4 linked regions of the Homo sapiens genome follow. The protein of the gene in region 1 interacts with the protein of each later gene in a biochemical or structural test. Each region holds a gene or a part of one and is shown in the gene's direction. Other genes may lie near its edges.

Region 1 (2,835 bases):
AGCTGTGGGACTCAGACTGTCTTGGGACTGAGAGTCGTGGTGAGGAATGTCCGGGGAGAGTCAGTATCCAGGGTGGGCTGCAGCTGCTTCTTAGAGTGAAGTGAGTCTATCCAGGGTGGGCTGCAGTTGCTCCTTACAGCAAAGTGAGTGGTCAGCTCTGATTCAGGCCTCCTCTGAGGACCAGTGTCTTTTGGGCCAGTGACCAGGCAGGTGGTATTGAGGAGGGCCTTGGAAGGGCTCAGGAAACGAGGAAGCCTTGAGGGCAGGACCAGATATGCCAAGGGTGGGGGCGTCCACTCACCTCACTCAATGCTCCTGCACAGTGCTGGGGGTGGCATGTGGTGGCTGTAGTGGTTGAGTTAGATCCCGTTACAGAAATACCGATTATTACAATCTGACAGTGACCCCTCTATTCATTTAGGGCAAGGCATCCCTTTCAGCAGGGGGGGAACTGAAACTGCTGCTATACATTTTTTTATTGCTACATGTTGGAAACTCCAGATGTGATTCTTCTGAAAGTCTTGATTATTTTTACACAGTTTTTAATAGCAGATTTTAAGGGTCATTATGGAAATATAGTATAGCAGGAAAGCTTGATGGAATGAAAGACCTAAGTACATATTTTATTATAAACATATGTAACAGCTCTGCTAATTCCAATTTTCTACTTAGAAAGTTTTGTGCATTTGTCAAAAGGGTATTACCTTTAACCTCCCTGTAGTCTCCCTTTTTTGGATAGAGGGTAATATAAACTATGATGAACACCCTTCCTATATAAAGGCTATCTTAGCACCCCATGGGAGCAGAGTGGGATGAAAGAACAGGGTGTGTGGAGTGTTCATTCCCATCCCTTTGTCATCAGCAGGAATCAGGATCAGAAAAGTCCCCTCACTAAAGAAAGTCACCCCTTCTCCCCTCAAAAAGTACATAAGTAAAAATAAGAATCAAAGATTCTCGTAGCCCAGCTTAGGAGGAATGAATGTATCGATCAGTCTCCATGACTCAGTTTATTTCTGCTCTGACCAGGAAAAACAAGACAAGGCCGTTCTCCAAGCAGAAGTGCAGCACCTGAGACAGGACAACATGAGACTGCAGGAGGAGTCCCAGACCGCGACAGCTCAGCTGCGGAAATTCACAGAATGGTTTTTCACCACCATCGACAAAAAATCTTAGCCAATCCGCACCTCATCAAGGGACCACTGGGAAATGCCCCTTGTCCCTTTGAAGTCACAAACATGTGGTTTTTCTGTGTGCTTTCAACCAATCGTAGATGTTTTTGCTGTTCCATTCTGTGTAGCACCATTCACCACAGCAGGATAGGGAGCCTCGACTCTTTCTCGGTAACCACGGCAGAGAGCAGCGCCGATGTGAAGATGAATGAATGTAACTCCTGGTGTGAAGATGAATGTAAACCCTGGCGACAGTTGAGACCTTTTTCTTTTAGACTCTGCTAAAACAGTGCTCTGGCTTGGGCTTACCTCAAGAGGGAAGATAGTTGAGTTTTATTTCCTGTATATCAGGTGACCTGGTAGAGATGTAAAGCAATTTACCATAGTTTGGGCTTTAGTATTGTAAAATAAACATGAGAACAAATAATCAGACATATACTTTAATGTTAAAGGTGCTCTATTTTTTTGGATGTACAGTAGTTTTATTTCCACAGCCACATTACCATAGCAATAAGAAAGGAGGCATAGTACATAGTTGGAAAAGCTTTGTGGGGGGATTAAAAAAAAAAAAAAGCACTGTTGTGTTTAACACTAGTTCAGATGCAGTTACCTTAGAGACTTATTTATTTGCAGGAACAAATGGTGCCTGAATATTAACAGTGTTCTGATTAAAAACAAAAAAAAGATACATATGCCTTGTAAATGGCTCACCGAGTGGTCAGTAGTCACTTCAACTCTTAGTTCACTTTTGTATAGTTGCTCTGCTGGAAAGAAATGAGAGTGAATCTGCTTACTCACTAGAACTTCCCTGTGTGCTGTGAGCCAGCGGAACCACTTGTACAATGCCAGATTTGTTTATCTTTGTACAGAAGCTTTGATGAAGTGTCTTGTATTTAACACCCTTATTTAAGCTTATTTAACCTTAAATTGTTAATTTTATAAAATTTGGTTTGGCCTGCACTACGATGAGGGATGGAGGTAGCTGCAGGCTCAGAAGAGACTGAGCTTGCACAGATCAGACCGAGAAGCAGGGTGAGAGATTCTAACGACTGGATGCTGCTAGTAACACATTGTTTGTATTGCTTTACCATTTTTAACTGTTAGATTTGAGATGAACATACATTTTGCTTTTTTAATAAATGTTTAAAAGAAGTCCACATAAGAAATGGTGTTGTCAGGTGACTAGATTTTTTGTGATCTAACATGTCAACAGTCTGACTGTATGTGAATTTATTTCAGGTCATTTAGAACCTTGATTTGTATTAAATACTGTTCAGCTCCTTTCTCATAGAATCCCAGATCGATTTCAGGAAGGAGTACCTAGCAGTTTTTAATAGCTGCTGTGTGGCGGACACTATTCTCTGAACTTTTCATCCATCTCATTTAACCCCAATGGTATCTATCCTTCATAGGTAGGAGGTGGGGTTCCCATTTACAACCACATGAACTGTGGGTCAAGTGAAGTAATTTACGCAAGACTGCCTTTAAAAAAATAAAATAAAATAACACTTTGGTGTTGCCAGCACTTTGAGAGGCCAAGGCGGGTGGATCACCTGAGGTTAGGAGTTCAAGACCAGCCTGACCAACATGGAGAAACCCTGTCTCTACTAAAAGTACAAAATTAGCCGGGCATGGTGGCACATGCCTGTAATCCCAGCTACTCGGG
Region 2 (3,500 bases), on another chromosome or scaffold:
TGCAGTGGCTTGATCATGGCTCACTGCAGCCTCGAACTCCCGGGCTCAATGGATCCTCCAGGTTCAGTCGATCCTCCGGGCTCAATTGATTCTTGTGCCTCAGCCTCCTGAGTAGATGGTACTACAGGCACGCACCACCACACCTGGCTACTTTTTTGTATTTTTTGTAGAGACAGAGTTTTGTCATGTTGCCCAGGCTGATGTCAAACCCCTGGGCTCGGCCAAGTGCAGTGGCTCACGCCTGTAATCCCAGCACTTTGGGAGGCCGAGGCGGGTGGATCACAAGATCAGGAGATTGAGACCATCCTGGCTAACACGGTGAAACCCCGTCTCTACTAAAAAAAACAAAAAAACAAAAAAACAAAAAATTAGCCAGGCGTGGTGGCAGGTGCCTGTAGTCCCAGCTACTCAGGAGGCTGAGGCAGAATGGCATGAACCCGGGAGGCGGAGCTTGCAGTGAGCCGAGATCGCATCACTGTACTCCAGCCTGGGCGACAGAGTGAGACTCTGTCTCAAAAAAATAAATAAACAAACAAGCAAACAAACAAACCCTTGGGCTCAAGTGATCTGCCCACCTCAACCTCCCAAAGTACTGGGATTACAGATGTGAGCCACTGTGCCTGGCTGAGGAATAACTTTTTTTTTTTTGAGACAGAGTTTCGCTCTTGTTGCCCAGGCTGGAGTGCAATGGCACAATCTTGGTTCACTGGAACCTCTGCCTCCTGGGTTCAAGCGATTCTCCTGCCTCAGCCTCCTGAGTAGCTGAGATTACGGGCACCTCCCACCATGCCCAGCTAATTTTTGTGTTTTAATAGAGATGAGGTTTCACCAAGTTGGTCATGCTGGTCTCAAACTCCTGACCTCAGGTGATCCACCCACCTCAGGCTCCCAAAGTGCTGGGATTACACGCGTGAACCACCACACCCGGCCGGTAATAAGATTTTTAAAGGAGGAAATAACATTAGGCAATACTTACTGGTGAAGAGCTCAGTACTTCCGCTTGCTTGCTAGGAGATCTCATGAGCTAAAGCAGATACGAAAGTGCCTGCCAGAGATAGGGAGTAGAAGGTGTGAAGGCCAGGACGTGAGAGGCCAGGCCTGTTGTAATTAGAAGCAATTCAGTGTGGCTGGAGGACAAGTGAGAGATCCTCGGGTGGCAGAGGCCAGATCACCAAGGTTCTTGTAAGCCAGCAACACTTGGGCTTTAGCAGGAGGAAGATGGGGACCACTGCAGAGTGTTAAGCAAGGGAGTGATGACATCAGCTTTGCACATCAGGAAAATCCCTCTGTTTGCCACGTGGATGACGGGGAGGGAGAGGCGGGCAGATGAGCTGGGCACCAGAGAGAGCTGCAGGTGAGAGGTAATGGTGGCCCGAGCTAGGGGTGACACACTGAGGTGTGTGGGAGATGTACTGAATGGAGAATCGGGGACATGGAGAGGAGAGGAGGAGGGATCAGGGATGATGCTCCTTTTCTGGCTTGGTCAGCATGGCCCAGGCAACTGGTAGAAGATACAAGATAGGTAAGTGTCTTTGACATTGTTCATTTACTCTGTGTTTATAGCTAGGATGTAAGTTTTACTAATCCCATTTCAGATGGTAATTGGAGATCTAGAGAGGTTGAGCAGTTATTCCAGGGTGCCTCAGGTAGTTTTAGGAGCATTGGGATTTGAACTTGGGTCTTTTTCACTTCAGTATCATTAGCCACTCATTGTGCAGTTCTTCCTCGGTGGAAAGAGGGTCAGTTCTGTGGCTGTGGGTCTGAGACCTGGGGGTTGGGTGAGGTGGAACATGGAGTTGGGTGAACATTGGGTAAGGAGGAGGAGCAGAAAGTCTTAGCAGAAATGTTTGCTGTGTCTGCATTGTTTTTCCCAAACCTAGCGCAGGACAGTGAGACAGCGGCTCTATGCCTTTTCCTCAGCCCGTCCTAGACACTGTTTCTGCCAGGAGGACAGTTTTGCTGGGAGTTGGCCTCAACCTGCTCCTCCTATCTGAATGGTGGGTGAAGGACAGACAAGCCTGGTGCTAAGCTCATCCAGAGGCCCCCAGATAGGGAAATAGCATGGATTCTCTTCTGCCCGCTGGGGACTTCTTGGGCACCTGGCCCCCAGGCATGGCTGTCCTGACTCATCTGGGTGCTATGGCTTACGGGCCTCTAGATATCCTTTGGAAAAACGTGTGAGGCATAAATTGATATGAACATTCTTCAAGGCAGTTTGGCAATACATTTTTTTTTAATTCAACATTTCCACCTCTTGCAGTGTACTCCAAGAATATACTTGGATATATTTCTGTTGTTTTTGATGGCAAAATTAAAATCTTTTGGTTGAGAAAATTTTGGTTTATCCATACAGTGTGTTCTCTGCAGTTTTTCTGTATAGTCACTAAAAATCACATTCTAGGGGAATATTTAATGACATGGAAAATACTCATGATTTATTAAGTGAAAAAGTCTGTGTGTGTGCATATATGTTTATATACATATATCTGTAGCTATCTGTGTACATGGCATATCTCAGTATGATGAGATTGTGACTTTTCTTTACTTCTTTGTCCTTTTATTTTGAGATAGGGTCTCACTCTGTCACCCAGGCTGGAGTACAGTGGTATAATCAGCTCACTGCAGCCTTGATCTCCTGGGCTCAAGCGATTCTCTGTGTACCACCACACCTGGCTAATTTTTGTATTTTTTGCAGAGTCAGGATCTTGCCATGTTTCCCAGGCTGGTCTCAAATTTCTGGCCTCAAGTGATCTACCCACCTTGGCCTCCCAAAGTGCTAGGATTACAGGTGTGACCTACTGCACCCAGCTGCCTTTGTACTTTTCTTTTCTTTTTTTTTTTTGAGATTGAGTTTCACTCTTGTTGCCCAGGCTGGAGTGCAATGGCACAATCTTGGCTCACCACAACCTCTGCCTTCTGGGTTCAAGCGATTCTCCTGCCTCAGCCTCCCAAGTGGCTGGGATTACAGGCATGCGCCACCACGCCCAGGTAATTTTGTATTTTTAGTAGAGATGGGGTTTTTCCATGTTGGTCAGGCTGGTTTTGAACTCCCAACCTCAGGTGATCCGCCCTGACTCAGTCTCCTGAAGTGCTGGGGTTTACAGGTGTGAGACACCGCGCCCAGCCTTCTTTGTGCTTTTCTATATTAACAAATTTTTGAGGCCGGGCATGGTGGTTCATACCTGTAATCCCAGCAAGTCTGGGCGTGGTAGCTCAAGCCTGTAATCCTAGCACTTTGGGAGGCCAAGGTGGGTGGATCACCTGAGATCAGGAGTTCAAGACCAGCATGATCAACATGGTGAAACCCCATCTCTATTAAAAATACAAAAATTAGCCAGGCCTGGTGGCAGGCACCTGTAATCCCAGCTACTCGGGAGGCTGAGGCACAAGAATCACTTGAACCCAGGAGGCGGAGGTTGCAGTGAGCCAAGATCATGCCACTGCACTCCAGCATGGGCGACGGAGCAAGTCTCAAAAAAAAAAGCAACTTTTTGATAGTG
Region 3 (2,196 bases), on another chromosome or scaffold:
ACTCCCTCGCCAATGCCCAGCAAATATTTGAGGAGCTCTATCCCAGCCCCAGCCCATCACACACAGTCATGATCCTGGCTGGGGACCCACACGGACAGGGGGACCTTGGGGGGGTCACACTCTGGAACTAAGGTTCTGGGGGTGCTCTCGTTCCCATGGGGGCCCATCAGCAGGAGTGCACAGGCCTTAGCAGGAGCCCGTGGGGTGCGCTGTGGTGGGAAGGCTGGGAAGGGAAGGGGCCTTGGGAGCCACAGTGGATTGTAGGGTCCCCGCCTCTGGCTCCCCTCGCTCCCCCCTTCCTGCCGTGTTCTCAGTGTGAGCCGGCTCAGCCTTGCCTGGGTGTCCTTGTGCCCTGCGAGCTTCCAAGGGGCGCTGGGGAGGCTTCACAGAGGAGGTGGCTGCGCTTGGCAGCACAGATGATGTGGAGCATGGAGGCAGAGGCTGAGCAAAGTGCCTGGGGGACGGGGTCCCTCGGGGGGCAGGAAGGGCGGGCAGTGGGAGAGGTGCCAGGCCTGGGTCTCGAAGGAGAGCCTGGGAGAGTTCAGGCCATGCCCCTGCCCCGGCCAGGCCAGTGCAGCCCCTGCTCCCGCTGTGCCTGCCAGGGTTCCTGACTCAGCTTTGAGGACCAGGGTGGGGCGGGGTCCTGCCCCAGGCCTAGGCCAGAGCAGCTGGCAGTGGCTGGCACAGAGACATTCATGGACAAGTGTCTGGGAGGCCTGGGGGCGACCGGCAGCCGGTGAGGGGCCTGCGCATGTGGAAAGAGGGGCCTTCCTGCTGCATCTTGTGGGGCCTCCAGCAGGACCCCCTCCTGGGAAGGCTGGACAGCACAGTCGGAGCCGGCAGGACCAGCCAGCCGAGGGCAGGGAGCCGTGGGGCGCCGGGGAGAGGTTCACAGGTGGCCCAAGCGGCAGGGAACAAGATCCCAGTGTGGCCTCAGGTCTGGATGTTTGGAGATGTGGCACCAGGAGTGAGACCAGGAGGCCAGGCCCCTCTGGAGGTGGTGCAGGCTCTGCTGGGTCCTCTGTGTTGCCATCCCTGCCAGGGAAATGCTGGGCAAGAAGGTGCTCCCCGGGCAGGCCCTGGCATGTAGGTGGTGAGGCAGCGTGCTGCTCAGGGCGGGGCCAGGCAGCTGAGTCACAGGCCTGGGGCTGGCTGCCCTGCACAGGAGGGCGAGGCTGGCTCCCGTAGGCAGGAAGGGCCTGGCTGTGGCCCCCTCCTTGTGATGTGGACATCCTTGGTCCATACAGAGCTGTCCTGTCTCCAGAAACAAGTGTTTCTCCATCCTGAGCACACTAGCTTCCTGGGGCCCTCAGGGGCCTGTCCTCCCATCTGTCCATGTGGGGCTGGCGGGGTAGAGCCGGGCTTCTGGACATGTGTGGTGTTGCAGGCCCCTTCAGAGCCCTATGAACACTCCAGGCAAATGCCCAAATGCCCACGGTATTGACCGGCGAGAGGGGGCAAACCCCTGCCTCTCCCCACACGATATCTCCCAGCCCTGCAGCCTGGCATCTGGAGCCATGCGGACCTGGTGACAAGAAGGAGATGGGCAGAACTGTCCCCTTGTCCCCTGGGGGCAGGGCTAGCTCCTAGCCCTGGCAGAACCTAGTAGGACACTTGTTGAATGAGCAGAGGCCTGACTGGGAGAAGTTTCTAGTCTCAGCTGCTCCACATGGACCCCTGGGCCTCCAGATGGCATCTCCACCGGGCCTGGCTGAGTAAGACACACAGGCCCCACACAGCTCCCACATGCTGGCTGGGCTGCTGCGTCGAGGCCAGGATGAGGGCCTCTGGGGCCACTGCTGGGACCTGTTCAAGAGAACGGGCTGGGCACGCTCAAGAGGGGAGTCACACCTTCCGCCCGCAGCCCGGACTTGTTCACAGATGCCTCATGGAGGCTGCTTCCGGAAGCTTGGACTGAGGGTGAGGAGGGGCACGCTGGGATTGGGGACCTTGGTGGCCACGGAGCCGCTGGGGCAGCAAGGACCCTGCGGCCATTTCAGGGACCTCAGAACTGTAGATCGAGGAGGGTCTTCACCTTCCCAGGCCTTCGATTCACCTGTGGAGGGCAGCAGTTGGTAGCAGGGACCCCCTGTCCCTGGTTCTCATGTGCCGGGGGCTGGCTCTTCCTGCCTCCTGTCTGCTGTGGGCCCAGGCCTGGGGCTCCTGCCACCCCATAGGCGCCTCAAGGCCTCCACC
Region 4 (3,500 bases), on another chromosome or scaffold:
GCCAGGACTGTGCCAGCCCCCACCCTTTGGAGGCCATATCCACCCTCCCCTCCTGAAGTGTCACTGGGCCTCAACTCTGCCCCAACATCCTCTCTCTCTCGCGTGCTCTCTCTCTCTCCTCCAAAAAGCAAATATTTGGAAGGGGACTTTGACATCTTCTTTCTAGTTCAGATGTTTATATCTCTTTGAGTCACAGACCCCTTTGAGAATCTAATGAAAGCCGTGGGCCCATTTCCCCATTAAAATGCATGTATACACCAATATTTTCATTACATTCAGGGTCTCTGTGAACTGTTGAAGTTTCCAGTGGGCTGAGATTAAGAATTTCTGATCTGGTTCAACCACTTGATTTTATTATAGATGAAGACAAGACACTAAGGCCCAGAGAGGGCAAGTGACTTGCCTATGATCTCACAGCAAATTAGTGGCACAGCCCATTCTGAAGCAGTGGGCCCAGACTCCCAGTTCAGTGTGTCCTTTCCACTCCCCCAGATGGTGTCTCCCTCCCTTTCCTCTCCATAGCTCACTTCTCCATCAGTCCTGTCCTAGGGCCCTGCACAGAACAAAGTACACGTGACGTATGGTCAGTAAGTGTGGTTAACAGGCCAGCCGGAAGAAGGAACAGGCCAGCCGGAAGGAGGGCCAACTTCATTTAGCTGATTCTTCCCTGCAGGGCCAGGGTAGATGTGGTTTGATTGCAGAGACGTGAGGGGCTAGGTCAATGATTGGATGGGTCTGTTCCAGGGTGTTCCTGTGATGTCTCAGAGCTCCAGGCTGTCACCATGCGAGGGACCAAGAGAAGTGTCCTTAGGCTACAGAGCAGGGGACCAGAAGCATGCCCAGGCTTCCTCTAAATGCCAGGACCTTAGCTTTTAACACCACCTCCAGCCATCTCTCTTCCTCCTCTGCTCTGGAACCCATGCTGGCTCCCTAGTACCATAGCATCAGATTCAGATTTCTTCCCCTTGTGTCTTCTTTGCATAGGATGAGCTCATTTCTGCACTGGTCATTGTTGTCATCCTGTCCCTAGCTGGTGTGAGTGGGAACGAGTGGGGAGGTGGGCAGAACTCTGGAATGTCCTCTGCCTGCCTGGGGCCTTGGCCGGATATCTTGCTGTGCCTTACCAGCCGTCTCTGCCCCCAGGACTGCAGTGCAACGCATCCGTGGACCTCATTGGCACCTGCTGGCCCCGCAGCCCTGCGGGGCAGCTAGTGGTTCGGCCCTGCCCTGCCTTTTTCTATGGTGTCCGCTACAATACCACAAGTAAGGAAGAAGTGGAGGGTGGACCATCTGCTGGGAGGTGGGACAGGATGGGGAGAGCTTGGAGGTGGGGGAAGGAAGAATGACGATGACAATAACAGTAATACCTCTTGTGGGGATCGCCCCTGTTTTCCAAAGGTCAGCGCTGTATTCTCCTGGGTGCCCTGTGCTCATTACTCGTGATTCTCACAATACCCTTGCAAGACACTATCACGCCTCCTATAACTAAGGCCCCTGGGGCTCAGGGAGGTTAGGGAACTTGCCCCATTGGCAGCTGGTAAGGGGTGAAGCTGGAATTTGCATCCACGTCTGTCTGGCACTTTCTTCTGCCATTAAACTTCAGGTTAGTCTGTTTGAGCCTACTGTAATACCATGAAGCAGGGCAGGAATCATCAGAGCCCCAGCTGTGTGGATAAGAACCTTGAGTCGAGAGGTTCTGAGGCCTACCCCGGGCCCTCCAGCCAGGAGGCAGGGGACCCAGAGTTTCAGATGCACAGGCACAGGCTCAACTTGCATCCTGGATTTGTAGGTGGAGTGGGGCAGGACGGGGTTGACCCAGGGTCCGTCGGATACTTGATCCTCATGTAAACACCTGGCTCCCCGGAGGCCCGAAACCCCCAGAGCCGGGCTTTGCAGCTCCCTGCTATTCCGCCTGCCACTCTCAGAATTAATTTGCTCTCCCCTGTCAATGAGTCAGGTCCCTGCTTATCAAGAGAGCAACAGCTGTGGGCCAGGAGCCCTAACCTACCTGAGGGGAGGCTGGGGGCCTGATCCCTGCAATTGGGGCCTCCTGTGTGCACCCTTGGGTCCTTGTGGTCTTGAACTCAGAGTCCCAAGAGGGCACAGGGGTGAGCCCAGACACCATGTAGTTTACTCCAAGACTCACTGTGTGACCTCCCAGCACATTGTTGCCCCTCATCTGGCCCTCAGCCCCTCATCTGAGGATGGAGAGGGCTGGATGGCTTGGCTTCTAAGATGTCTTCCAGCTCAAAACTCCCAGATTCCTTCTCCTGCCCCTCTTTCCTCTACCAGATGGATTTGGGGTGTTAAGGTTGGGGGCTACAGCAGAGGAGTAGGAAGACCCAGCCAGAAAGTGACTCCCCAGGGAGTGACTTGGGAGGCCAGGGCAGGGCAGGAGGCTGGGGCAGCCAGATCTAGCAGCCTCGTGTGTCTGTACCATGTCCTGGCCATGGGAGGGACTCGGGAGAGGGAGAAGACACACTGGGAGGGGCTTGGGGGCCAAGGGGAGGAAGTGCAGAAAGGAAGAAGGGCCTCTTGGCCAGGTCAGTCCAAGGGGTGCACAGTTGGCCAGCCCCCAATATAGTCAGGCCCATTTTGTAATAAGGAAATTGAGGCACAGAGAGGCTAATAACCTATCGGAGGTCGCAGAGCCTGGAGGCAGGGTCACAGCCCAGGGACGATAACTCTCACGATGCTGGGGGCTGAGTCCTTCTGGAGCCCCTAGGAAGGAGGCAGCATCTGCACATCAGAGGAGCTTCCAGGAGGAGGCACCAGTTCCTGTCATGTCCACTTCCAGAGTGATCCTCGTGTCTGGGCCTACCTGCCCCCACTCCCCAGCGCCACCGCCCAGCCTCAGGTTTCAGATCTGAGTTGGTCACTCCTTCACTTGGAACCCACTCTTGTGTGGCCTCCGTGTTCAGGCTGCTGGGTGGGGCCGGCCAGGCTGTCTGTGGTCATGGCCCTGTCACCTTTTGCAGCCAGCCCTGGCCACCCCCCATGAGTTCCCTCTGCTCCCGTTGCAAAGGGTTACTTGACATGCTCCAGATAAACATTTTCAGCCCTCAGTGCCTGGGCACACACTTCACTTGCTGGCCCTGCCTGAAGTGGCAGTCAGGAGTCCTAAGTTCTCATTCCAGCTGCATCTGCAGCTGGTTAAGTAGCCCTTGGCACAGACCTTCTGTGGGCCTCAGTTTCTACACCTGCAGAATGGGTGGGAGGATTGAGTGTGGTGCTCTCTAGGCTCCCCCGCACTTCCCTCTGTGATCCCAGGAAAGGAGCTGGGGTGATGGCCTCTCGACATGGGGTCAGTCTGTGAGGGCAGGGCTGGAAGACCCCTTTCCAGGTGCCTCCAGCGCCAGATGAGGTGGAGCACGCCCGTGCAGTCAGTCACAAGTGGGTACCCAGAGCTGCACCTCATCATTAAGCACTAATTAATCCATTTACTGATGAGTTGCTGCCAGGACTTCTAGGCCTTCTCCCTAATGCCCTCCCTCCTGCTG

What was found. The genes of interacting proteins can lie anywhere in the genome.
Region 2: the proteins of SIPA1L2 (region 1) and TECPR2 interact in a test that uses a peptide from one of them, tested with the Homo sapiens proteins (one large-scale study listed by IntAct).
Region 3: the proteins of SIPA1L2 (region 1) and RGS12 interact in a test that uses a peptide from one of them, tested with the Homo sapiens proteins (one large-scale study listed by IntAct).
Region 4: the proteins of SIPA1L2 (region 1) and CRHR1 interact in a test that uses a peptide from one of them, tested with the Homo sapiens proteins (one large-scale study listed by IntAct).

What each region holds. Positions count from the first base shown.
Region 1 is NC_000001.11:232,397,465-232,400,299, reverse strand, and holds the end of SIPA1L2 (signal-induced proliferation-associated 1-like protein 2), read left to right. Parts: intron 1-1,026; coding exon 1,027-1,173; 3' UTR 1,174-2,335; downstream 2,336-2,835.
Region 2 is NC_000014.9:102,369,441-102,372,940, forward strand, and holds part of TECPR2 (tectonin beta-propeller repeat-containing protein 2), read left to right. Parts: intron 1-303; exon of another isoform or gene 304-335; intron 336-976; exon of another isoform or gene 977-1,045; intron 1,046-3,500. UniProt on the Homo sapiens protein: Probably plays a role as positive regulator of autophagy.
Region 3 is NC_000004.12:3,436,021-3,438,216, forward strand, and holds part of RGS12 (regulator of G-protein signaling 12), read left to right. Parts: intron 1-2,196. UniProt on the Homo sapiens protein: Regulates G protein-coupled receptor signaling cascades. Inhibits signal transduction by increasing the GTPase activity of G protein alpha subunits, thereby driving them into their inactive GDP-bound form.
Region 4 is NC_000017.11:45,815,320-45,818,819, forward strand, and holds part of CRHR1 (corticotropin-releasing factor receptor 1 isoform 2 precursor), read left to right. Parts: intron 1-1,143; coding exon 1,144-1,263; intron 1,264-3,500. Other genes in the region: LINC02210-CRHR1 (CRHR1-IT1-CRHR1 protein), read left to right, coding at 1,240-1,263.